Linked DNA regions of Homo sapiens. The protein of the gene in region 4 interacts with the protein of the main gene of each other region in a biochemical or structural test. Each region holds a gene or a part of one and is shown on either strand. Other genes may lie near its edges.

Evidence for each region.
Region 1: the proteins of RB1 (region 4) and ABL1 form a complex in vitro, tested with the Homo sapiens proteins (3 studies listed by BioGRID).
Region 2: of the proteins of RB1 (region 4) and CCND1, one has a biochemical effect on the other in vitro, tested with the Homo sapiens proteins (15 studies listed by BioGRID, with this or other methods).
Region 3: the proteins of RB1 (region 4) and TAF1 form a complex in vitro, tested with the Homo sapiens proteins (4 studies listed by BioGRID).

The regions. Positions count from the first base shown.
Region 1 is NC_000009.12:130,838,243-130,845,279, reverse strand, and holds part of ABL1 (tyrosine-protein kinase ABL1), read right to left. Parts: intron 1-7,037. UniProt on the Homo sapiens protein: Non-receptor tyrosine-protein kinase that plays a role in many key processes linked to cell growth and survival such as cytoskeleton remodeling in response to extracellular stimuli, cell motility and adhesion, receptor endocytosis, autophagy, DNA damage response and apoptosis.
Region 2 is NC_000011.10:69,651,145-69,655,000, forward strand, and holds the end of CCND1 (G1/S-specific cyclin-D1), read left to right. Parts: coding exon 1-138; 3' UTR 139-3,330; downstream 3,331-3,856. UniProt on the Homo sapiens protein: Regulatory component of the cyclin D1-CDK4 (DC) complex that phosphorylates and inhibits members of the retinoblastoma (RB) protein family including RB1 and regulates the cell-cycle during G(1)/S transition.
Region 3 is NC_000023.11:71,362,513-71,369,356, reverse strand, and holds the start of TAF1 (transcription initiation factor TFIID subunit 1), read right to left. Parts: upstream 3,001-6,844; 5' UTR 2,983-3,000; coding exon 2,863-2,982; intron 2,808-2,862; exon of another isoform or gene 1,859-2,807; coding exon 1,744-1,858; intron 1,304-1,743; coding exon 1,187-1,303; intron 1-1,186. UniProt on the Homo sapiens protein: The TFIID basal transcription factor complex plays a major role in the initiation of RNA polymerase II (Pol II)-dependent transcription.
Region 4 is NC_000013.11:48,362,729-48,369,765, reverse strand, and holds part of RB1 (retinoblastoma-associated protein), read right to left. Parts: intron 6,952-7,037; coding exon 6,809-6,951; intron 6,579-6,808; exon of another isoform or gene 4,873-6,578; coding exon 4,795-4,872; exon of another isoform or gene 4,790-4,794; intron 2,273-4,789; coding exon 2,163-2,272; intron 1,240-2,162; coding exon 1,162-1,239; intron 1-1,161. UniProt on the Homo sapiens protein: Tumor suppressor that is a key regulator of the G1/S transition of the cell cycle. The hypophosphorylated form binds transcription regulators of the E2F family, preventing transcription of E2F-responsive genes.

The DNA.
Region 1 (7,037 bases), on a different chromosome or scaffold from region 4:
GTCTGGCTAAGACATTGTCATGTAAAAGATTCCAGGGGAAATATTTAAACCTTGGACTAATTAAATAACTTTATTTTTAAAGGAGGTTTCTCTAGAAACTCATTTAATCTACTGCCTATAATGGCTACAAGTGGAAAGTAATAAAACTGCATTTATTTTAAAAGAAAATTGCATAATTTGGACCTCTCACTAATTTATCCCAGTCTCCTTTTTAGGCTCTTCCTGTGAGAATGCTGAGGTTTTACTGAGCCAATTCCTTAGTGCAGGACTTGTTAACCTGGAAGACCCTGGGAGTCTGGGATAGAATTCAAGGGCTCCATGTCCTCTGATGGGAAAAATTAAAATTTTATTTCACTAACCTCTTACTAAAATGTAGCATTTAATTTTTTTAAGAACACAGGTAACAAACCAGAGTAGAAGTACAGTGCCTGTGACTGTCTCTGGTAGAAACTAGGTATTTCTTTTTTTGTTTGGTGGGGAAACCGAGTTTCACTCTTGTCATTCAGGCTGGAGTGCGGTGGCGCGATCTTGGCTCACTTCAACCTCCGCCTCCCGGGTTCAAGTGAGTCTCCTGCCTCAACCTCCTGAGTAGCTAGGATTACAGGCGCCTACCACCATGCCCAGCTAATTTTTATATCTTTAGTAAAGACGGGGTTTCACCATGTTGGCCAGGCTGGTCTTGAACTCCTGACCTCAAGTGATCTGCCTGCCTTGGCCTCAAATATTAACCTTTCTGAAGATACACAGTCCCTGTCCCCCTCCCTCAACCAAAAAGGAAAAAAAAAAAATTGTGTCACCTTCCAAGAATCTACGGTGAAAAAGTCTCCAATTACTGGAAATGGAGTACAAAGACACTCATAAATAGAGATGCCACTATCTTCAAGGCCATTCTGAACACCTGCCATTGACGCCCATATCAGGACTGAGGCTGGAAGTCATCCTCTGTCAGTTCCCACCCTGCATCTTGGCACTTTTCCTCCTCAATCTCTCATCACTTCTGTCCTTTCCATGCTCTACCACGCCCTTGGCTGGGTCCCCCTTTGGCCATTCCACCTCCACTCCCTACTATCAGGGCCATCTTTCTCAAATGCAGACCTGACCAGGTCACTCTCTTGCTTCAAATCCCTTAGAGATGGCTGCCAGCCGAGAGGCAGAAGAGAGCATGGGCTTGGGAGGTGGCCCTGTCTCCCAATGGTCAGCTACCACTTACTGGCAGTGTCATCGGGGGCAATGCTGGGATCATGATGTGCTTTGCAGGGTAGCTGGCAGTTTGCAGCTAACATGGGACATGTTTTTGAGGGCCTAGGCATGCACAGGCCCTCAAAAAATGGCTGGGGTTGTTATTCCTTCCACCACTATAGTAAAAGTCTGAGCTCCTGAAGCAGGCATGCCAGGCTCTTCAGGGTTGAGACTGGGAGCATCTGGCCCTCTACTCCTGCTTTCCATTCCAGCCTCTCCAAACTCCTTTCAGATCCCCCAGGCCTCCTGTTGCTTGCCTCTCCTGACTGCACTGTGACAAGTGCCATTTACTCTCCCTAGAGTTCGTTCCCCAGCCTCTTCTGCTCTTCCTGGCCTCCCCATCTCCCATAAACCTTCTCTAACCGGTCCTTCCTCCTCCCCATCACCTCGCCCACAACAGGATGCTTCTCCTTTAACCCATTTGGGTACCTGGTGTCTGTCTCTATCACCACCCTGCATCTATCACCCAGTAAGCAATCTGTTCACATGTCCCCAGCAGTACAAAAAGCATGGGCTCTGGGTGGACAGGCCTTGTTCAAACCTCAGCACCAGCATGTCTTGAAGACATTTGTTTCTGAGCCTCAGTTTCTCAACTGCACAACAGGGCAACAACGGCATGGCATCAACCTAGTTGGGCTGTCGGGAGGGCTCAATGAATCCTGCATGCAGAGAATTTCTGCATGGATGCCAACTGTGGCACCTGACACTGGGATGCTCACTACAGAACAACCGCGTCTTCTCTTATGCCACGCCTTCTCTTCTGCCACCACAACAATGTAAACTCCTCTGGGGTAGAGACCAAGTCTCTCATATCTCAGAGCCTTCTGTGCCTGCTCAGTGCAACGCAACAACACAGCACTGCTGGGTGAACTCAGATGTGGAACACCCTGCACTTGTCTGTCTTTAGCTACAAGGTACTGAAAAGTGCAGTTTAATAATCTGTTAACCTGTAATAAGAGCAGCAATAATGACAGATAGTAAAGTTGAAAAACAAATGCAACCTGACCAGGAAAACCTATATAAAAGCCTAGGGAACATAATGATTTGTTTTGACTGAAATATAAACCATGGCCAAAATCCTAAAGGTATAATGTAAAAACACAGTTCTCTGTGCTTTCAAAAGAAATAGGATTTGCTCCAGATTCCTAACAGACACCACAGTGAGCTCGCCGGACACCTTCCCAACAGGTTCCAGGAATCCCTGCAGTGGCCGCAGATCCAGACTGTCCACAGTCAGCCTGCTAATACCCACAAAGGCATTTTTATTGTCACAGGCCATTTGCAACAGACTGAAAGGCCTCCCCTTCTGCTGCCAGCCATGGCTGGTTTGAAAGCATTCACATTTCCTCTTCTTTTAACATGTCTTCATGGACTCCGGGGTCAGCTGACACCAGAGGCACTGGGCTACCCAATGACAGGCAATTTCCCCAGAAAGCCTTGTTAGCCATTAGTATTTTTATTGCTGATCTGGGTAAATGAACATGACCCTCCCCACCCTCATGGTATTTTGGCTTCAAAAAGCAATGCCTAATTGTATTCACGGCCTGTCTTTAAATACAATTTTAAGGTATTCAATGAACAACGCTATTAGCTAAATTTGAGGGCTTGTAAGACAGATAAAGACTAGGTTTCTATAGAGAATTTAAGAGTAATGAGGTTAAAGTTTATGCAACTTAATGTGATAGAATAATAGCTAATACTTACTGATCCCGTATCAAGTGCCAGCACTTCATCTGCACTGAATCCCTATAACCTTATTACGTAGACTCTATTATGAAGGCATTTGAGGGCAGGAAATGGAAACAGAGAGATGTGAAGTTACTGATGGCCTCTCTCTCCAGCTACCCATCCATACATCAGCTGCCTGTCCATCATCTGTCTCCTGCGCTTCTCTTGCTCTCACTCATTCTCTCTCTGTACCCACCCACCCCAGCCCCACTGGCCATCCTATTCCTCTTTGTCTCCCTTCTCTCAGTCTTCCTTCCCTCCCAGCTTGTTTTTTTTTCCCTTTCCTGTCTCAACCTTTTTGTATTTGTCTCTCAGTCTCTGTCTCTATAGATTTCCCCCTTATGTCTCCCCTTCCTCCCTCCCTCTCTCTCTCTCTATCTCCTTCCCACCTATTTCTCTCTGTCTTCCCTATCACCAGTACTCAACACACGCAATATAACAAAAATATTTATGGTGTAACATGGTAAAGAAAGAAGGATTTGAAAACCAACTTTTTTTTTTGAGCTGGAGTTTTTGCTCGTTGCCCAGGCTGGAGTACAATGGTGAGATCGCGGCTCACTGCAACCTCTGCCTCCCAGGTTCAAGTAATTCTCCTGCCTTAGCCTCCTGAGTAGCTGGGATTACAGGCACTCCCCACTACGCCTGGCTAATTTTTTATATTTTTAGTAGAGACAGGGTTTCAGCATGTTGGCCAGGCTGGTCTCGAACTCCTGACCTCAGGTGACCACCTGCCTCGGCCTCCCAAAGTGCTGGGATTACAGGCGTCAGCCACCGCGCCCGGCCTGAAAACCAATTTCTAGAGCAAGCTTGTTCAACCCATGGCCCACGGGCTGCATATGGCCCAGGACGGCTTTGAATGTGGCCTAACAAATTTGCAAACTTTCTTAAAAACATTATAAGATTTTTGGCCCGGTGCAGTGGCTCACGCCTGTAATCCCAGGGCTTTGGGAGGCCGAGGTGGGCGGATCACGAGGTCAGGAGATGGAGACCATCCTGGCTAACATGGTGAAACCCCCGGGCGCCTGTAGTACCCTCTACTAGGGAGGCTGAGGCAGGAGAATGGCGTGAACCCAGGAGGCGGAGCTTGCAGTGAGCTGAGATCGTGCAACTGCACTCCAGTCTGGGCGACAGAGTGAGACTCTTGTCTCAAAAAAAAAAAGAAATGAGATTTTTGTGGGATTTGTTTTGTTGGTTTAGCTCATCAGCTATCGTTAGTATGTTTTACGTGTGGCCCAAGACAATTTTTCTCCCAATGTGGCCCAGGGAAGCCAAGATTGGACACCCCTGTTCCAGAGTAACGATTCTACCCATCTGAGGACAAAGTTACACTATCAAAACTAAGTAATTATAATTAGCAAGCTATTCTTCCTAATGGCTTTGAAACTGTAACTTTATTATGTAAGAAAACAAGACTGACTATAAGCTGATAATTGTTAAAGCCACATCATAAGTACATGGGAGTTCATTATGCTGTCTACTTTTGAGACAGTTTTAGGCTGGGTGCAGTGGCTCATGCCTGTAATCCCAGCACTTTGGGAGGCTGAGGTGGGAGGATTGCTTGAGCCCAGGAGTTTGAGACCAGCCTGGGCGACATAGTGAGACCCATCTCTATTTTTTTTAATTAAAAAAGAGATAGTTTTAAAAATTGACACTAAAAAAGAACAAACAAACCTATGAATTTATTTTATAAATTGTTCTTCTGTGTGTTTAATTAAGATCCACCATTATGGAGGAAAAGTTAAAGTCTTCCAATATCCCATTTGATCTTTAGTTCTTATGTATTTAAGAAAGCTACCCATTGATTTATTTTCTGCTTTTATTTCAGATCAATGATTATACTGGCACAATTACAATGACTTGATTTTACAAGGTGGTAAGTGGCACCAGATTTTCAGTTTTCACGTTTGAGGCTGTGGAAATATTGTCTCTGGACAGGAGAAATAAAATGCCAACCATGAGCCAATGGGAATTTCTCTTCCACAATGAAAATATTCACTACGGGAATAACAGAGGGTGCGAGGAAGAGAAGACATTTTTCAGCCAAAAATCAAGGACAGGAAGTATTAATTATACGCATCAAAACACACTTAGAAACAAACTGCTTTATTAGCAAGAAAAACTATGGGTGGGATTGGCTGAATTCTGTCATCACTTCAACCATTACAGAAACTGGTAAAGCCACCATTTTAGGCTGCTAAATATTTGCTTAAAGTAACAACAGCTTACTTTTCTGCTAGGCTCTTGTTCTGTGCCAGGCTCCCTGCTAAACAATTTACATGAAGTCTCTCAACAACTCAGTGAGGTAGGGATTACTACAGGCCTTATTTTAGAAATGGGAACACCAAGGTACAGTGAGCCTCGGTGAATGCGCAAGACCAGCCAAGAGCACAGGTGGCATTTGGGTCCAGACTGGCTGGCTCGGGAGCTGCCTGCCTGTGCAGAAGAATGAGACCCTAGGAACGCTGTGTGAGCCATAAACCTGCCTGGACTAAAGAGCATCTCAGAGGAATCTCGTATCAACATAACACAAACATACATTTAACTCTTACCAGTTTCAGAGCTTTCCCTCAATCATCTTATAGACCCTCAAAACAATCCTCTAAGGTGGCTGAACAGAGATTGGTCTCTCTGTCTTAGAGGTAAAAACACGGAAGCTCAGAGAGGTCAGAGGAAAACTGGGATCTCCTGCCTCCAAATTGAAAAGTACTGCCACCTAAACTGGGGCCCTTCCTCTTTTCTAGAAACCTCAGGGCACTGGTGTGAAAATTAAGTGAGGCTGCACATGATGTGCTCAGTGCCAGGGCCTGTGACATTGTAAATGGTCAACAATGTTAATAGCACCCAAAATGAAATGGACAGACTGGCCTTTTATTAGGTAACAGAAAGAGTCTCACTTTCTTTGTTACTGAACAAGGGAAGTATCTGATGACCTCAGGAGAGAGCAGAAAGCAAGCATAAGCTTCTCCAAAGCTCAAGTTCTAAAAGCGTATCTGTATGGCTGGCACCACATGAAGCATCCGCTGGAAAGTTAGCTGCTGAAAAGAAGCATTTAAAAGTGGGCCCTTAAAATAAATTTCGAAAGTTCAGGCTGAGTGCAGTGGCTCATGCCTGTAGGGATGCACTTTGGGGAGGCCAAGGTGGGAGGATCACTTGAGGCCAGTAGTTCAACACTGGCTTGGCCCGGGCAAACTAGTAAAAATAGTGAGACCCTGTCTCTACAAAAAAAAAAAAAAAATTTTAATTAGTCAGGTAGCATATGCCTGCAGCCCCAGCTACTTGGGAGGCTGAGGTGGGAGGGTTGCTTGAGACCAGGAGCTCAAGGCTGCAGTGAGCTGTGATTGTGCCACTGCAGTCCAGCCTGGGTGACAGAGCAAGACCCTATCTCCAAAAGCAACAATAACAACAACAACAAAAAGTTCAAGAAGAGTTCAGTTCACAGACATTAGTTTTTGATTCTACAGTACACAACTGTCACATACATGTACAATATTCAGGCACAATGTATGTAAATACAAACACATGAACAAATGAAAATAAAATGAAAAGAAAACCCTGAATTCAAAAGGCTAGTGTTCATGTTTTCTTTGACGTCTCCAGGGGAAAGAAATAATCAGAAAATTCAGTGTTCAAAGTAGACCGAATATTGCAAAGCTAAATGCGGTCCTGGTGAATAGATACTGCTATAAACATGCATATTCACAAAAAGCTGGAGAGCAAAATTCACATGTTATAATAAATGCTTATATGTGCACACAGTATTTCTAGAAGGACACACATAAAACTCCAGGGTGATTGCCTCTAGGTGGGGAAAATGAATAGGAGAGGGAATTACTTTTCACTAAATACCCTTTTAGGATTTCTTACATACAAGTATTTTTATATACATTTAAAAAAAATTAATCCTACTGTTAAAGCTAATCATTTTGCCAGGATCAGGTTTCTAGAAAAGAAAAAGAGACTACCCTTACATTTCAGGGATTAATTGGAGGAGTTTCTGGAGATACCATTTTGAAAATCACAGTGAATTCCAAAAGAGACATCAGTAGAGCATCCAGTGGCTAAAAGTGGGC
Region 2 (3,856 bases), on a different chromosome or scaffold from region 4:
ATCGAAGCCCTGCTGGAGTCAAGCCTGCGCCAGGCCCAGCAGAACATGGACCCCAAGGCCGCCGAGGAGGAGGAAGAGGAGGAGGAGGAGGTGGACCTGGCTTGCACACCCACCGACGTGCGGGACGTGGACATCTGAGGGCGCCAGGCAGGCGGGCGCCACCGCCACCCGCAGCGAGGGCGGAGCCGGCCCCAGGTGCTCCCCTGACAGTCCCTCCTCTCCGGAGCATTTTGATACCAGAAGGGAAAGCTTCATTCTCCTTGTTGTTGGTTGTTTTTTCCTTTGCTCTTTCCCCCTTCCATCTCTGACTTAAGCAAAAGAAAAAGATTACCCAAAAACTGTCTTTAAAAGAGAGAGAGAGAAAAAAAAAATAGTATTTGCATAACCCTGAGCGGTGGGGGAGGAGGGTTGTGCTACAGATGATAGAGGATTTTATACCCCAATAATCAACTCGTTTTTATATTAATGTACTTGTTTCTCTGTTGTAAGAATAGGCATTAACACAAAGGAGGCGTCTCGGGAGAGGATTAGGTTCCATCCTTTACGTGTTTAAAAAAAAGCATAAAAACATTTTAAAAACATAGAAAAATTCAGCAAACCATTTTTAAAGTAGAAGAGGGTTTTAGGTAGAAAAACATATTCTTGTGCTTTTCCTGATAAAGCACAGCTGTAGTGGGGTTCTAGGCATCTCTGTACTTTGCTTGCTCATATGCATGTAGTCACTTTATAAGTCATTGTATGTTATTATATTCCGTAGGTAGATGTGTAACCTCTTCACCTTATTCATGGCTGAAGTCACCTCTTGGTTACAGTAGCGTAGCGTGCCCGTGTGCATGTCCTTTGCGCCTGTGACCACCACCCCAACAAACCATCCAGTGACAAACCATCCAGTGGAGGTTTGTCGGGCACCAGCCAGCGTAGCAGGGTCGGGAAAGGCCACCTGTCCCACTCCTACGATACGCTACTATAAAGAGAAGACGAAATAGTGACATAATATATTCTATTTTTATACTCTTCCTATTTTTGTAGTGACCTGTTTATGAGATGCTGGTTTTCTACCCAACGGCCCTGCAGCCAGCTCACGTCCAGGTTCAACCCACAGCTACTTGGTTTGTGTTCTTCTTCATATTCTAAAACCATTCCATTTCCAAGCACTTTCAGTCCAATAGGTGTAGGAAATAGCGCTGTTTTTGTTGTGTGTGCAGGGAGGGCAGTTTTCTAATGGAATGGTTTGGGAATATCCATGTACTTGTTTGCAAGCAGGACTTTGAGGCAAGTGTGGGCCACTGTGGTGGCAGTGGAGGTGGGGTGTTTGGGAGGCTGCGTGCCAGTCAAGAAGAAAAAGGTTTGCATTCTCACATTGCCAGGATGATAAGTTCCTTTCCTTTTCTTTAAAGAAGTTGAAGTTTAGGAATCCTTTGGTGCCAACTGGTGTTTGAAAGTAGGGACCTCAGAGGTTTACCTAGAGAACAGGTGGTTTTTAAGGGTTATCTTAGATGTTTCACACCGGAAGGTTTTTAAACACTAAAATATATAATTTATAGTTAAGGCTAAAAAGTATATTTATTGCAGAGGATGTTCATAAGGCCAGTATGATTTATAAATGCAATCTCCCCTTGATTTAAACACACAGATACACACACACACACACACACACACAAACCTTCTGCCTTTGATGTTACAGATTTAATACAGTTTATTTTTAAAGATAGATCCTTTTATAGGTGAGAAAAAAACAATCTGGAAGAAAAAAACCACACAAAGACATTGATTCAGCCTGTTTGGCGTTTCCCAGAGTCATCTGATTGGACAGGCATGGGTGCAAGGAAAATTAGGGTACTCAACCTAAGTTCGGTTCCGATGAATTCTTATCCCCTGCCCCTTCCTTTAAAAAACTTAGTGACAAAATAGACAATTTGCACATCTTGGCTATGTAATTCTTGTAATTTTTATTTAGGAAGTGTTGAAGGGAGGTGGCAAGAGTGTGGAGGCTGACGTGTGAGGGAGGACAGGCGGGAGGAGGTGTGAGGAGGAGGCTCCCGAGGGGAAGGGGCGGTGCCCACACCGGGGACAGGCCGCAGCTCCATTTTCTTATTGCGCTGCTACCGTTGACTTCCAGGCACGGTTTGGAAATATTCACATCGCTTCTGTGTATCTCTTTCACATTGTTTGCTGCTATTGGAGGATCAGTTTTTTGTTTTACAATGTCATATACTGCCATGTACTAGTTTTAGTTTTCTCTTAGAACATTGTATTACAGATGCCTTTTTTGTAGTTTTTTTTTTTTTTATGTGATCAATTTTGACTTAATGTGATTACTGCTCTATTCCAAAAAGGTTGCTGTTTCACAATACCTCATGCTTCACTTAGCCATGGTGGACCCAGCGGGCAGGTTCTGCCTGCTTTGGCGGGCAGACACGCGGGCGCGATCCCACACAGGCTGGCGGGGGCCGGCCCCGAGGCCGCGTGCGTGAGAACCGCGCCGGTGTCCCCAGAGACCAGGCTGTGTCCCTCTTCTCTTCCCTGCGCCTGTGATGCTGGGCACTTCATCTGATCGGGGGCGTAGCATCATAGTAGTTTTTACAGCTGTGTTATTCTTTGCGTGTAGCTATGGAAGTTGCATAATTATTATTATTATTATTATAACAAGTGTGTCTTACGTGCCACCACGGCGTTGTACCTGTAGGACTCTCATTCGGGATGATTGGAATAGCTTCTGGAATTTGTTCAAGTTTTGGGTATGTTTAATCTGTTATGTACTAGTGTTCTGTTTGTTATTGTTTTGTTAATTACACCATAATGCTAATTTAAAGAGACTCCAAATCTCAATGAAGCCAGCTCACAGTGCTGTGTGCCCCGGTCACCTAGCAAGCTGCCGAACCAAAAGAATTTGCACCCCGCTGCGGGCCCACGTGGTTGGGGCCCTGCCCTGGCAGGGTCATCCTGTGCTCGGAGGCCATCTCGGGCACAGGCCCACCCCGCCCCACCCCTCCAGAACACGGCTCACGCTTACCTCAACCATCCTGGCTGCGGCGTCTGTCTGAACCACGCGGGGGCCTTGAGGGACGCTTTGTCTGTCGTGATGGGGCAAGGGCACAAGTCCTGGATGTTGTGTGTATCGAGAGGCCAAAGGCTGGTGGCAAGTGCACGGGGCACAGCGGAGTCTGTCCTGTGACGCGCAAGTCTGAGGGTCTGGGCGGCGGGCGGCTGGGTCTGTGCATTTCTGGTTGCACCGCGGCGCTTCCCAGCACCAACATGTAACCGGCATGTTTCCAGCAGAAGACAAAAAGACAAACATGAAAGTCTAGAAATAAAACTGGTAAAACCCCAGCGTGGTGCCTGCCTCTTTGCTTCCTGGGCTGGCCGTGAGCCAGGGACGCGTGTCCTGGTGCCCTAGAACCAGGGCAGGGTGGCAGGCTTGGCGGATGTGGGAGGCCGCAGCCTGTCCTGTGCGCTGTGGGAAGTTCAGCAGCATCCTGACCTCCATCCCCGGGATGACAGTCACGCCACCCGCCGTGACAACCAAGAATGTCTCCTGACACTGCCACATCCCCGGGGGTGGGGACAGAATCCAGCCAGGAGCAGGCACACCCCTCCCAACTGGGAGGAAGCCCTCAGCACAGGTGTGTGAGGTGGGAGGCGGTGTCCTGTCCCCGGGAGGCTCCAGAGAATAATTTGCAGGCTGCCTGGCTGGGTGAGCCCACCTCCAACCACGCGAGACAACAGCTCCGGCCTGGGTGACGTGAGCGGTGCCCATTGATGGGGAACATCTTCCCCCTCTTCCTTGCCCCACCAGTTTGTCTTCCCGGGTTATTTGCAGATAGGAAAATAAATAAAGCCGGCATTCGTTAACCCT
Region 3 (6,844 bases), on a different chromosome or scaffold from region 4:
ACCCTATACCAGAGAGGAAAAAAACATATTTGCAAGCAGGTATCAAGTTCATTGTTTTAGGCAGGGTGCGGTGGCTCACACCTGTAATCCTAACACTTATGGAGACCGAGGGGAGCAGGGTCACTTGAGGTAAGGAGTTCGAAACCAATCTGGCCAACATGGTGAAACCCCTTCTCTACTAAAAATACAAAAAAATTGGCCAGATGTGGCCGGGCGTGGTGGCTCACGCCTGTAATCCCAGCACTTTGGGAAGCCGAGGCAGGCGGATCACGAGGTCAGGAGATCGAGACCATCCTGGCTAACACGGTGAAACCCTGTCTCTACTAAAAATACAAAAAAATAGCCGGGCTTGGTGGCGGGCCCCTGTAGTCCCAGCTACTTGGGAGGCTCAGGCAGGAGAATTGCTTCAAACCGGGAGGTGGAGATTGCAGTGAGCCGAGATCGTGTCACCGCACTCCAACCTGGGCAAGAAAGTGAGACACTCCGTCTCGGAAAAAAAAAAAAAAACAGTTGTTTTATATTGGGTTTTTTTTTTTTTTTTTGAGACGGAGTGTCTCACTCTTGCTGCCCAGGCTGGAGTGCAGTGGCACGATCTCGGCTCACTGCAACCTCCACCTGCCGGTTTGAAGCAATTCTCCTGCCTCAGCCTCCCGAGTACCTGGGATTACAGTCATGCGCCACCACGCCTGGCTAATTTTTTATTTTTAGTAAACGGGATTTCTCCATATTGGTCAGGCTGTCTCAAGCTCCCGACCTCAGGTAATCTGGTGAGCCACCACGTCCTGCCTTAGTTCATTGCTTATGTATGACGTTGTATCCTTCTTGAACTATCCATTCCTTAAGGGCAAAAACTGAATTTGTTTCATAGTTTCCAACTTTGAAGTGTATCTCACAAACCCTGTAGGTATTCAAATACCAGGTGACAAGAAAGCTACTTGTCATTAACTAAGAATTCATGACTGAACAGTGTGAGGAATAACCACATGAATACGGTTAAGACTGGCCAGAACACAAAAAAAGATAGCAGCTACTTGGAACTGACCTGACAAAGGGAGTGGAGGAGCCAAAGCAAAGGCATAGAGAGCAGAAACAATGGCAGACAGCGGGTATAGAAACCAGAGCCCAAACTGGACTATACAGCAGGATAATGCACTGGAATGTTCAAGCCAATACACCAAAGAATCACCTGAGTGGCAAAGGGGCTGCAAGCTCCCCATCGTCTGCTGGTATCTTCGGCTTTCATCTTCTGCCACCTCATTGATGTCTGAATAGTCCACAGCATCTTCTGTACTCCTAACCCACCCTATGAAAAAAGCAGGGAGAATCGCAACAACAGTAAGCGACCCTCACTCCCTCAGATAATTCCCATTTAAAAGTACATGTACAGGCTGGATGCGGTGGCTCACGCCTGTAATCCCAGCACTTTGGAAGGCCAAGCCAGACGGATCACCTCAGGCCAGGAGTTCAAGACCAGTCTGACCAATATGATGAAACCCTGTCTCTACTAAAAATACAAAAATTAGCCGGGCGTGGTGGTGCGTGCCTGTAGTCCCAGCTACTCAGGAGGCTGAGACAGGAGAAATGCTTGAACCCGGGTGGCGGAGGCTGCAGTCAGCCCAGATCGCCCCACTGCACTCCAACCTCGGAGACAGAGCGAAACTCCGTCTTACACACACAAAAAAGTACATACATAGTAGGTGGCTAGCCTCCTCCCCCGCCTACTCCCCACAACCCAGACTTCACCTTCATCATTTACCAAGGCACCGTCAGTCCCGGTCAATTCTTCATTTGCCGTGAGTTCAGTGATCAGGCTGCCCAGCCCCAAAGCCCCCAAGCCTGCCAAGTGCTTCTTACATTCCTGAAAAAGGGACAGCACGAGTCGAAGATAACAACTAAACCTACGACTCCCACACCACAGGACTTATTTCCCTGGTCCACGACAAAGTCACAAATCCACATGAAAAATGACTGTGCAGTGTGCCAAAACAAGCAACACGTTCGAGAACTGTAATATACATCTACCAAACTCCGCATCGATCAGATCTTTATTAAAGCACCACAGCCAACTGCATCGCCCACACTTTAAAGTATACTACAAGAGAAGACGAATCAAATAACTACTGCCAAGACTGAATGAATGGAACGGTCGTTCTCGGAACGAGGGCCGAGGCAGGGGGATCAGTGGGATTGGAGGCGTCGAGGCGGGGCTCGTTCGGTCCCTGTTTCGCATGCGCCTGCGGCACAGGAGGGGCCACAGCGGCCGACAGCTTCACTCCTCAAGAAAACGGGCCTAAGTGAAGGCAGGGTAGTTTCACTAGGGCGCAGGACACTATTTCACGAAAGTCAGTGAAGACGCTGGGAGAGCCACCTAAAAGGCGCACTGTGACCAGGAGGCCCGCTCGGGTGCTAGGAACACCCCATTGTCCTAAGCCTGAGGCCGGAACCAAACGAGCGGGAGGCAGGTCCTGTCCAGTCCTCTGGCTCTATAGAGCCATCTCAGGGCAGCGATGTCAGAGGGGCAGGCAGTGTCAAGAATCTCCAAGCAGGTTACGGGTGGGAAGCCATCTCAGTAGGCGAAACCAGCATGTGTCCTACTGTCTGGTCGGCAGAGCGCTAGCTCCAAAGCCACTATTCCCTGCGCCCCTGGCCCCGGGCTCGCCTCGCGCTCTCTTCTGCCCACTCTCCCCCAGAACGATCACTCCCACGCCACGTTGCTCCCGCACCCATGAGGACGGGATCCTCCTCCCCGGCGTTAGCTGCGCCCTGTTCTCGCTGCCTGAGCACCCTCTCCTTTCCTCCCCGCACCTCCTTCCTCTGCTTAGCCCCACCCCCCGAGCCCTACCCCCACGCCCACCCCCTCACATCATCCAAGACGCTTTCCCCCTCCAGCTGCCCGGCTCCATTGATGTTGCCGAAAAGGAAACCCGCTAAAGAAAATGGGCCGCCTCCAGCGGAATCTTCGTCGCTGTCCGTGTCTGACATGATGGCGGCAGCAGTGATGGTAGCTGCTGTCCGCAGCAGCAAATCGCAGCCGGGTCCCATAGACCGGAAATAAAACAACAGTCGCCCAGAAGTGACTTACTGAGCTCCCTTACCCTACCAGCCTCTACCGGAAGCTCAAAACAGAGGGGAAAGGGAGGGGGAAGTGGGGAGAGGGGAGGGGGAAGGGGGGGAAAACCCGGAAAGACCGGCTATCCTAAGAGAAAGAAGTAACTACTTTACTAACGGCTTTTGATTCGACGCTACGGGATCAGGAGGATGGATATGTGGAAAGCGGTTGGTCAAAGAAAATATTCAGTCCCGCCCGCTCCCACTGCTCCGCGCGCGAGCTTTCTCACGGCACCGAATTAGAGCAGTGGCTCTTCCTCCAATCAGAAGGAGCTGCTCGAGTCACGTGGCTTACGCGCAGGCAACCTCGGGTTCCTGTACCACAATACCCGGAAGTAAGGGTAAGAGCCGGTCTTTGTGCTGCGTGCAATTTCACCGGTCCGTCCCAAGGAGAGACTTGACGTAAATTATACAGGCATTCCCGAGCTATGCAGGTTACTTGTTTTGAGTTGACATTTTTCCCTAGAAATTGATTTTTTGACCGGACGCGGTGGCTTACGCCTGTAATTCCAGCACTTTGAGAGGCCGAGGTGGGAGGATCGCTTGAGCCCACGAGTATGAGGCCAGCCTGGACAAGAAAGCGAGACTCCATCCATACACAAAATCAAAAAAATTAGCCAGATGTGGTGGCCAGTGCCTGTAGTCCCAGCTGTTGGGGGGTCTGAGGTGGGAGCCAGGAGTTGGAGTCTGCAGTGACCTGTGATCGGGCCACTGCACTCCAGCCCGCCTCAAAAAAAATACTTGTTCCCCCAACGTTTTATTTCGGAAAATGTGAAAGTTTAGTAAAATGAACAGCTGACCCCTCACCTAGACTCACAATGGTTAACATTTTGCTAGGATTTTTGTTTTTCTAAACCATTTATGGGCATCTTGTTCTTCACTCCTAAAAATAAGCATCTTAACTATGGAACCAAAGTACCTTTATCACAACTTTAGGAAGTAAGTCAATATTATTTAAGGAAGAGTCCGCACTTAAATTTCCCCAGTTGTCCTAGTTGGAACATTTTACGGGGTTTCGTCATGTTGCACAGGCTGGTCTCAGACTCCTGGGCTCAAGCAATCTGCCCGTTTCAGCCTCCCAAAGTGCTGGGATTGCAGCCATGAGCCAACACCCCGGCTTTCACCTTGCTTTTTTCACATATTATGATAATATAGACTGAAATAATTTCTTTACCACATCATAGCACTCTTCCTCATTCTCCCTTTTTTCCAATACTAGGATCCATTCACGTTTCATGCATTGTATTTGGTCATCTTCCTTTAGTCCAGAATCACCTGCCTTCTTGTTTGTTTTTCATGACACTAAATATTTGGAAGAATCCAGGCAAGTTGTCTTGAAAACATTCCATGATCCGAATTTCTCTTGTTTCCTTTTTTTTTTTGAGACGTAGTCTCGCTCTGTTGCCCAGGGTGGAGTGCAGTGGTGCTATCTCGGCTCATTGCAAGCTCCACCTCCTGGGTTCACACCATTCTCCTGCTTCAGCCTCCCAAGTATCTGGGACTACAGGCGCCCGCCACCAAGCCCGGCTAATTTTTGTATTTTTGGTGGAGACGGGGTTTCACTGTGTTAGCCAGGATGGTCTTGATTTCCTGACCTCGTGATCCGCCCACCTCGGCCTCCCAAAATGCTGGGATTACAGGCGTGAGCCACCACACGCCCGGCCTTTTTTTTTTTTTCTTTTTTTGAGACGGAGTCTCTTGCTCTGTCTCCCAGGATAAAGTGCTGTGGTGCGATCTCGGCGCCACCACCCCTGGCTAATTTTTGTATGATTAGTAGAGCCGGGGTTTCACCATATTGGCCACACTGATCTCAAACTCCTGACCTCGTGATCCGCCCGCCTCAAGTGCTGGAAATTACAGGAGTGAGCCTCCGCGCCCGGCCCAGGTTAAATATTTTATCAGCCATCAGAAGGTACACTGTCAAATACAGTGTTGTCCTAGTATTGGTGATGCTAAATTTCATCACCTTGATAAAGTAGTCACCACCAGATTGCTCCATCACAAAGGTACAACCCTGTGTAATTACTAAGTAATCCACAGGTACTTAGAGATTGTGTGAATATTCTTTTTTTTTTTTCAGTCTTTTGGTACTGAGCCCATCCTTCTGCAGAATAAATTGTGAATATTCTTTTCCCCATTGACCTTGCACCCAATGTGGTTTTAGCATTCATTGATGTCCCTTGCCTAAATCAGTTATATTGGGAGAATGCGAAAGGATGATCTTTCTTTCTTTTTCTTATTTTTTTTTTGAGAAAGTCTCACTCTGTTGCCCAGGGTGGAGTGCACTGCCGACCTCCTTCTCCCGGGTTCAAGCGATTCTCCAGTCTCAGCCTCTTGAGTAGCTGGGACTATAGGAGCATACCACCACACCCGAATTTTTGTATTTTTAGTAGACACGGGGTTTCACCGTGTTAACCAGGCTGGTCTCAAACTCCTGACCTCAGGTGATCCACCCGCCTTGGCCTCCCAAAGTGCTGGGATTACAGGCGTGAGCCACCGCGCCCAGCTTGGAATGCTTTTTAATGTAGTTTATGATAGTTACGTAGCAGCGCGCACAGTGGCTCACGGCTGTAATCCCAGCACTTTGGGAGGCCGAGGCGGACAGATCACCTGAGGTCAGGAGTTTGAGACCAAGCTGGCCAACATGGTGAAACCGTATCTTTACTAAAAATACAAAAAAATTAGCCAACACGGTGGCGCACATCTGTAGCCCCAGCTACTTGGGAGGCTGAGGCTGGAGAATCGCTTGAACCCGGGAGGTGGAGGTTGCAGTGAGCCGAGATCGCGCTACTGTACTCCAGCCTGGGCAACAGAGCGAGACTCTGTCTCAAAAAAAAAAAAAAAAAAGTTATTTAGTACGATATTGTCTCTTGGATGCTTGTGCTTGAGGAAAAGCAGACTGAATAAAGGTAGAGGCTTGTAGGATGTGGAAGGAGACTTCAGGTCCTATAAATATAAAAGATAACTTTTTTTTTTTTGTAGAGACAGGGTCTCACTATTGTAGCCCAGGGTGGTCTTGAACTCCTGAGCCCAAGCAATCCTCCCGCCTTGGCCTCCCAAAGTGTTGGGATTACAGGTATGAGCCACCACACCTAACCTAAAGATACAATTCTTTTTTTTTTATCTCCCAGCCTGCTCCCAGCCGAAAGATACCATTCTTGATTCAAAACATGGTTTCATATATTCACATTGTTCGGTCCAAACAGTAAAATAAAAAGTTTTTAAAAAATAAAAATAGGCTGGGCACGGTGGCTCACTCCTGTAATCCCAGCACTTTGGGAGGTCCAGGCGGGCAGATCACCTGAAGTCAGGAGTTTGAGACCAGCCTAGCCAACATGGTGAAACCTCGTCTCTACTGAAAATACAAAAATTAGCCGGATGCGGTGGTGGGCGCCTGTAATCCCAGCGACTCGGGAGGCTGAGGCAAGAGAATCGCTTGAACCCAAGAGATGGAGGTTGGCAGTGAACTGAGATCGCACCACCACACTCCAGCCTGGGCAACAGAGCGAGACTCTGCCTCAAAAAAAGTTATTTAGTACAACATATTGTCTCTTGGATGCTTGTGCTTGAGAAAAAGCAGATTCAATGAGAGGTAGAGGCTTGTAGGATGTGGAAGGAGACTTCAGGTCCTATAAATATAAAAGATAACATAATATTCTTTTTTTTTTTTGGTAGAGACAGGGTCTCATTATGTAGCCCAGGGTGGGCTCCTGAGCTCAAGCAGTCCTCCCGCCTT
Region 4 (7,037 bases):
TTTGTGCTGAATGAAGAGTAGCAGTTGGTAATCCATGGAAAGAAAAGGAGGAAATTTCAAGAAGAGGGAATATCAAGTACGAGGGTTTTCAAAAAACTTGGAAAGCCCAAGAAACAGAGAAGGCCAAAGTGTGGCTAACACAGAGTGAGAAAGAAAACAAGATGAGGTTGGAGAGGCAACAGAAACCAGACCATATAAGATCTTTTAGGCATTGTTAAGGAATTTGCACTGTATACCAATTGCAATGGGAAGCAGTCAGTGGGTTTAACAGCAAGGTGAATGTAACTGATTTACATTTCTAGGAGAAATTCTGGGGGCTCTATGGAGAATATCTTTGATGGTGAGGAGACAGGAACAATGATGAGACCAGAAGGAGCAAGATCAGGTAGTAGGCTACTGCAAAAAATCCAAGAGAAAGAGAACAATGTCTTGGACAAGAGTTGTGAGAGCAGAAATGGAGAAAAGTAGATGCACTCAGGAAATATTTTGGAGGTAGATTATTCAACAAGCCTTGATAACAGATTTTGATGTGGGAAATGAGTGAGGAAAAAGACATAAAAAATAGTTCTAATCCTTTAAGGTTGCATGCAGATCAAATAGTGATACTTTAATTTTTTCTTTTTTATTTACTGAAATGGAACACATTCCTATTTTAGGTTATGTTCTTTAAGAACAGACAAAACTAGGTCCAATAACCATATCTTCAGCAACCAGTAAAATGCCCAGCACACAAAGATTATATATACACATTTTTTTTTTGAGACGGAGTTTCGCTCTTGTCACCCAGGCTGAAGTGCAATGGCACGATCTCAGCTCTCTGCAACCTCCGCCTCCCGGGTTCAAGCAATTCTCCTGCCTCAGCCTCCCGAGCAGCTGGGATTACAGGCACACACCACCACCCCCAGCTAATTTTTGTATTTCTAGTAGAGACGGGGTTTCACCATGTTGGCCAGGCCGGTCTCAAACTCCTAACCTCAGGTGATCTGCCCGCCTTGGCCTCCCAAAGTGCTGGGATTACAGGTGTGATCCACCACACCTGGCCTTCAATATATATTTCTTACATGTATGTATGAATACATAAAGAAACGTGAACAAATCTGAAACACTATAAAGCCATGAATAACAAAATTATAATATAATTAAAAGTAGGAAAATTCATACCTAACTGGAGTGTGTGGAGGAATTACATTCACCTCTTCATCAAGGTTACTTTTTCGTGGTGTTCTCTGTGTTTCAAAACTAAATAACAATAAGTGAAGTCATTCACATACTGAAAATTTACAATTTGTGCTTTATGCATCAAAAAAGCAGTATAATGCTTCTGTTGTCTCATAAAATCATATAAAATGATAACTCAATAATAGATAGGATAGAAAATAGATGACCCAGCTGCTGCTTAAATAAAATATTTTTCACTACTCTTTTTAATTGTGGGTCTCTTTCCATTATGTTTATGACAAAGAGGTATACCAATCATTAAGTCTTTTTTTAAAAGTGAAAGTCAGATGCTTTCTCCCTGGTGGTATTGATAACCAAGTTGTTCAGTATTAAAAAGCATTAAAACTCAAGTTTTTCAATGCATTATTCCTTCTAAAAACTTTATTTCCACTTAAATAAAATTTAAAACATTTTACTGTGTTTAACTTCTAAATTACGCATATTTTCAGTTTCATATTAAAAGAGTTCATGCTAAAGACACAAAATTAACTTTACTTATGATCAGTCAAAAATTTTAACAATCACTCTCAACCATTCCAATTTTAGGTTTCTACATGATAATAACAGAGACTACACTTTTGTATAAACTTTTTTAAATAAACCAGGCAGGCAATAGTATATGAAAGGATAGAAATAAGGTAGAGACCACTATTTGAAGAAACTAATTACTTTAGCCATTATCTTTTGGTGCACATTTTAAAAAATTATATTCAGTTAACTGCAAAAAGGTAACTGTTATAGGACACACAATTCACATTAAATCTATATTTGTAGATAAGTTATATGCTTAAAATACTGTTAAACTTTTCTTTGTATAAAGACATTTGAAAGTAATTTGTTATAAATGATATCTAAAGGTCACTAAGCTAAAGACTATATAATCTACCTATATCAGTATCAACCTATATCTAAAGCAAATCAATCAAATATACCATGTGCAATACCTGTCTATAGAATCAGTCTGAAGAGTTTTATCATGATCCAAAAATAATCTTGCATCTAGATCTTTATTTTTAAGATAAATTTCTTCGTATCGTTTAGAAAGATTTTCAACCTTGAAAGAAAAAAGTCACTGACAATTATCCTTTACATGTCATTACATCTCTCAGCACACAGAGGCACAGATTTCATTAAAGAATTTTTGTATAATATACATTTAATTTTGTAATATACACTGAGTTCGCATGCAATATAAATAAGGTCTATCTAAAAGTGAGGTACAGAAAATTGCAACATTTGTTCAACTTTGATTTTAGGTCTATTTCGTGCATAGAAAATATTTATTAGAATTTTATGTAGACAAAGATAGCCAATGCTACAAAACAGTACCTAAGATAAAAATAGGTATTATAATAACTGTTTAACTGCCAAGATTTTCCAAACATCCCATATATGCTTTACTTTTAATCTTTTTTTTTTTTTTTTTTTTGAGATGGAGTTTCGCTCTTTCGCCCAGGCTGGAGTGCAGTGGCACAATCTCGGCTCACTGCCACCTCTGCCCCCGGGGTTCAAGCAACTTTCCTGCCTCAGCCTCCCGAGTAGCTGGGATTATAGGTACCTGCTACCATGCCCGGCTAATTTTTGTATTTTTAGTAGAGACGGGGTTTCGCCATGTTGGCCAAGCTGGTCTTGAACTCCTGACCTCAGGTGATCCACCTGCCTCGGCCTCCCAAAGTACTAGAATTACAGGCGTGAGCCACCGCGCCCAGCCTGCTTTTAATCTTTTATGCTTATCAATATAAAATATTTTTTCAAACATTGTTGCAAATCCTCTTGATTACATATTCTACCAATGTTTTCTAAACCCTTTGGTTCACTCCAGTACCCTTCAGTTAAGTATCTTGGGCAAGACAATTAGCTCAATTTATCAGTTCAATTAACACACTTGCACAATTTATTCCCAATCTTAGATACTTTTTCAATTGCTAGAATTTGTAAATCTTTCATCAGTTCTGATCCATAATTTTTTAATTATACTTTAAAAACCAATGCCCAAGAGAAAACTATTGGCATGCCTTCTACTGTGACTTTTAACGCCAAAGTGATTCCAACCTCAGAGAAGTAAAATTGCATTTTAAAAGGAGTGATAGGAAGAAATCCAATTAAATGCAAACTTTTCATTAATCTTCATAAATGTATTAGATAGAACAGTAATCCATGCTTATGTTTAATCATTGTTCCTGTCCTACCTTAGTTGAGGCACTAATTACCAGTCATCTATTGATTGGCTATATTATGTGAAATATTGGAGAAAAAGTAAAATTACTCTTAAGATTTATATTAAAACTATAATCCTTTTAAAGGAGAAAAAAAGATTGCTACAACAGATTTTAAAGTTATGAACAGCCTAGTTTTTGGTACCAAAAGTGGTAACAAGACTCATTAATATAACATTTGGTCCCTTCTTGCCTCTTCAGTACCATATTTTAATTGTTCTGCCCTGTATCCCAACCTTAATGAATTACTTAGAGTTCACTGATCAGACCATACTATCATACATCACTGCACCTTTGAATCTACAATGTCCAACCCTTGGAAATGCTATATCTGTAATGCTTACTCAGATTTGAAATCACATCACCTCTAAACTATTTTCCACAAAACCTATCAGCCCTAGTTTGGATTAGGTAGCTCTCCTTTGAGATATCACAGAACCCTGTGAATACTTTTTTCACACTCTTGTAGACTCCTGTAATGCTCTATTTCTTTGTCAGCCTCTCCCACTAGCACTTTAAGGATAGTGACTGAGAGTGAAATCTCTGTATCCATAGTATCTAGCACGTGCCTGACATATATTAAGCATTCAAAAAATATTTGTTGAATTAATAAATTAATTCAAAAACTAGCTATCAATTCAGGTTACAGAACTAGCAGTCTAGCTATTTTATTTCATGCCTTTTGGTCATAGTGACTAATACTATGTCTTCTAAAACACTGGTTTTGTTCTTCATCATCTATCACAGCATCCTTTTCTCCACATATTTCGTCTTACCATGCAAAGCTCTCAGTTATTCTGTTCTCATTGGAAAGACATTTGTAGCAAAATGCGAAACAAAACAGGTAGATGGATGGAATATCACTAAGGTAAAACACTTCTGCAATAGTCACAGTCATTTCAACAAATACATTTGTATTTTCAATTAAGCAGTTCTTAAAAATCCTCAAAAGAGATGTTCCACAATGTAGTAATGCCAATAATGTTGATGGCATTAATCATGGTTCCTACGCTTAATGAGGCTTACCAAAGCAAATTTAATGGTTTATATTTAGCTATTAAAATTTAGCTATTTAATGGTATTTAGAAGTTTAAAAGTCTATACTTTGATTTTGGAAAAAATTCAATAAAGATTGATTTCTAGTATAAATCACAAAATGATGCTAATACATTTGATTATATACTCAAAAGCTTTTTGTTACTATACAAAAGTTAGTTTCACCACAATTCTACTTGGCTAGATTCTTCTTGGGCAAAAAAAAAATGTGATACACAGTAAATTGATCTAAGAAAGTTAGACAATTATCCTCCCTCCACAGTCTCAAAACATTAATATTTTATTAAATTTCCTTTCAGATTACCTCTGGAAGTCCATTAGATGTTACAAGTCCAAGAGAATTCATAAAAGGTATAAAATTTTTGAAATAAACATTTTTCACCTGAAAAAGATGAAGTTACAACATGATCATTAAAATTTAAAACAAAATCTAATCTCTTGACTCTTGAACAATGCAGGGTAAGTTAGAGGTGTCAATCCCCCATGCAGTAAAAAATCTGTGTATAACTTTTTTATTTTTTATTATTTTCTTAGAGAAGGGGTCTCTCTATATTGCCTAGGCTGAAGTGTAGTGGCTATTCACAGGTGCAATCACATGCATTACAGCTTCAAATGCTTGGGCTCAAGCCATCCTTCCACCTCAGCCTCCCAAGTAGCTGAGACTACAGACCTATCGATTACTTTTGAGTACCCAAAATTTAACTAACAGCCTACTGTTGACTGGAAGCCAACCAATAACATAAAGATTGAATTCACATATATTTTGTATATGTACTATATATACATACTAAATATATCATCTTCTTATGATAAAGATAGAGAAAAGAAAATATTAGGAAAATTGTAAGAAGACAAAATACATTTACAGTAAGTTTATGTCATCTGTTAACAAAAATCGTCCGCCTGAAACAGCAGGCATCTGCAGCTACAGTTTTGTATGTATTTTATGGTATAGTAAATGATAAAATAGACTAGTATCTACATATATTTTGTACATTCAAGACATGCCTTTTTCTTAATTTTTTCTGTATTTGTAGGCTACACGGTTTGCTACAAATTTTTTCAAATTATTGCAAATCTCCAAAATTTTTTCTAATATATGTAATTAAATATATCTGTGTATAAACGGACCCATGCAATTCAAACCTGTTGTTCAAGAGTCAACTGTATATTTGTTGAAATTAGTAAGCCATAGTGCAAAAACTATGATATATCTTGATAAATCATTCTAATACTTCTTAAACTAGATTTTAGGACCACACTCTCACTCCTTCCCAAAGTTAACAGAGAAATTTCAAAGATGTAACATTTTTTACTGCTATCTGGTGTTAGTGATTGTGGACAATAAAACAAACTATGAGAAAAACTGTATGGTAAAAAGGAAAGAAGCAATAGTACCAGATATCCCAAAGTCTAATGTAGACGCTGTAAATAATAAGCTATCAGTCCCTGGAAGCTTGTTTACTCATTATAAAAAGGAGATTGAATACATTATTTGTAAGATTCCTTCTAACATCCACATTCTATGAACAAGACAAGTAATTCCTGGGAATTCATATGTATTCTCCAGCAGTCATTATGTGCTGTAATATTTAGAAAGAGAGTAATTATAGAAGGCCAAACAGAAATTTAATGTTGGTATCACTTATCACTAAACTAAAACACTAGAGCACTAGAGTTTTCTAAGCAGGGCTTTTTTGGTTTGTTTGTTCGTTTTTGGAGACATAGTCTCACTCTGGCGCCCGGGCTGGAGTGCAGTGGTGCAATCATGTCTCACTGTAACCTCAAACTTCTGGGCTCAAGCAATCCTTTTGCCTCAGTCTTCCAAGTAGCTGGGACTACAGGCACATGCCACCATGCCCAGTTCATTTTTTTAAATATGTATTTTGTAGAGACAGAGTCTCGCTATGTTGTTCAGGCTGGTCTAGACCTCCTGGCCTCAAGAAATCCTCCCACTTCGGCCTCCCAAAGAGCTGGGATTACAGGTGTGAGCCACCATGCCCAGCCTTGGCAGGGTATTTTAAAACATTAGGGGTATCAGTAACCTCAGAGGAATAAAAAAAAAAAAAAACTACATTTGAAAACTATTGTCTTGATTATATACTTTTCAGTGATTCCAGAGTGAGGGAGCTACTCTCTTTAAAATCAAAGTAACTAAATATAACGAATTAATTTTTTCTAAATATTTTGCTACTGCAAAAGAGTTAGCACTAATTACAAAAAAAACATGCTCATAACAAAAGAAGTAAATATTGTTAGGGAGAACTTACATCTAAATCTACTTTAACTGTTTTAAAGAAATCATGAAGTTAAATTACCTCATCTATATTACATTCATGTTCTTTACAGAGAACTTCAATAATTCTTGTATCATTTTCTAGTTGTTTTGCTATCCGTGCACTCCTGTTCTGACCTCGCCTGGGTGTTCGAGGTGAACCATTAATGGGTATAACAGCTGTTTCTGTAAAAGTGGTAAATTAGATAAGAACAATTGTACATCCATCATATAAAATAATGAAGTATTCTAACTATAACTTAGGTCAAAAA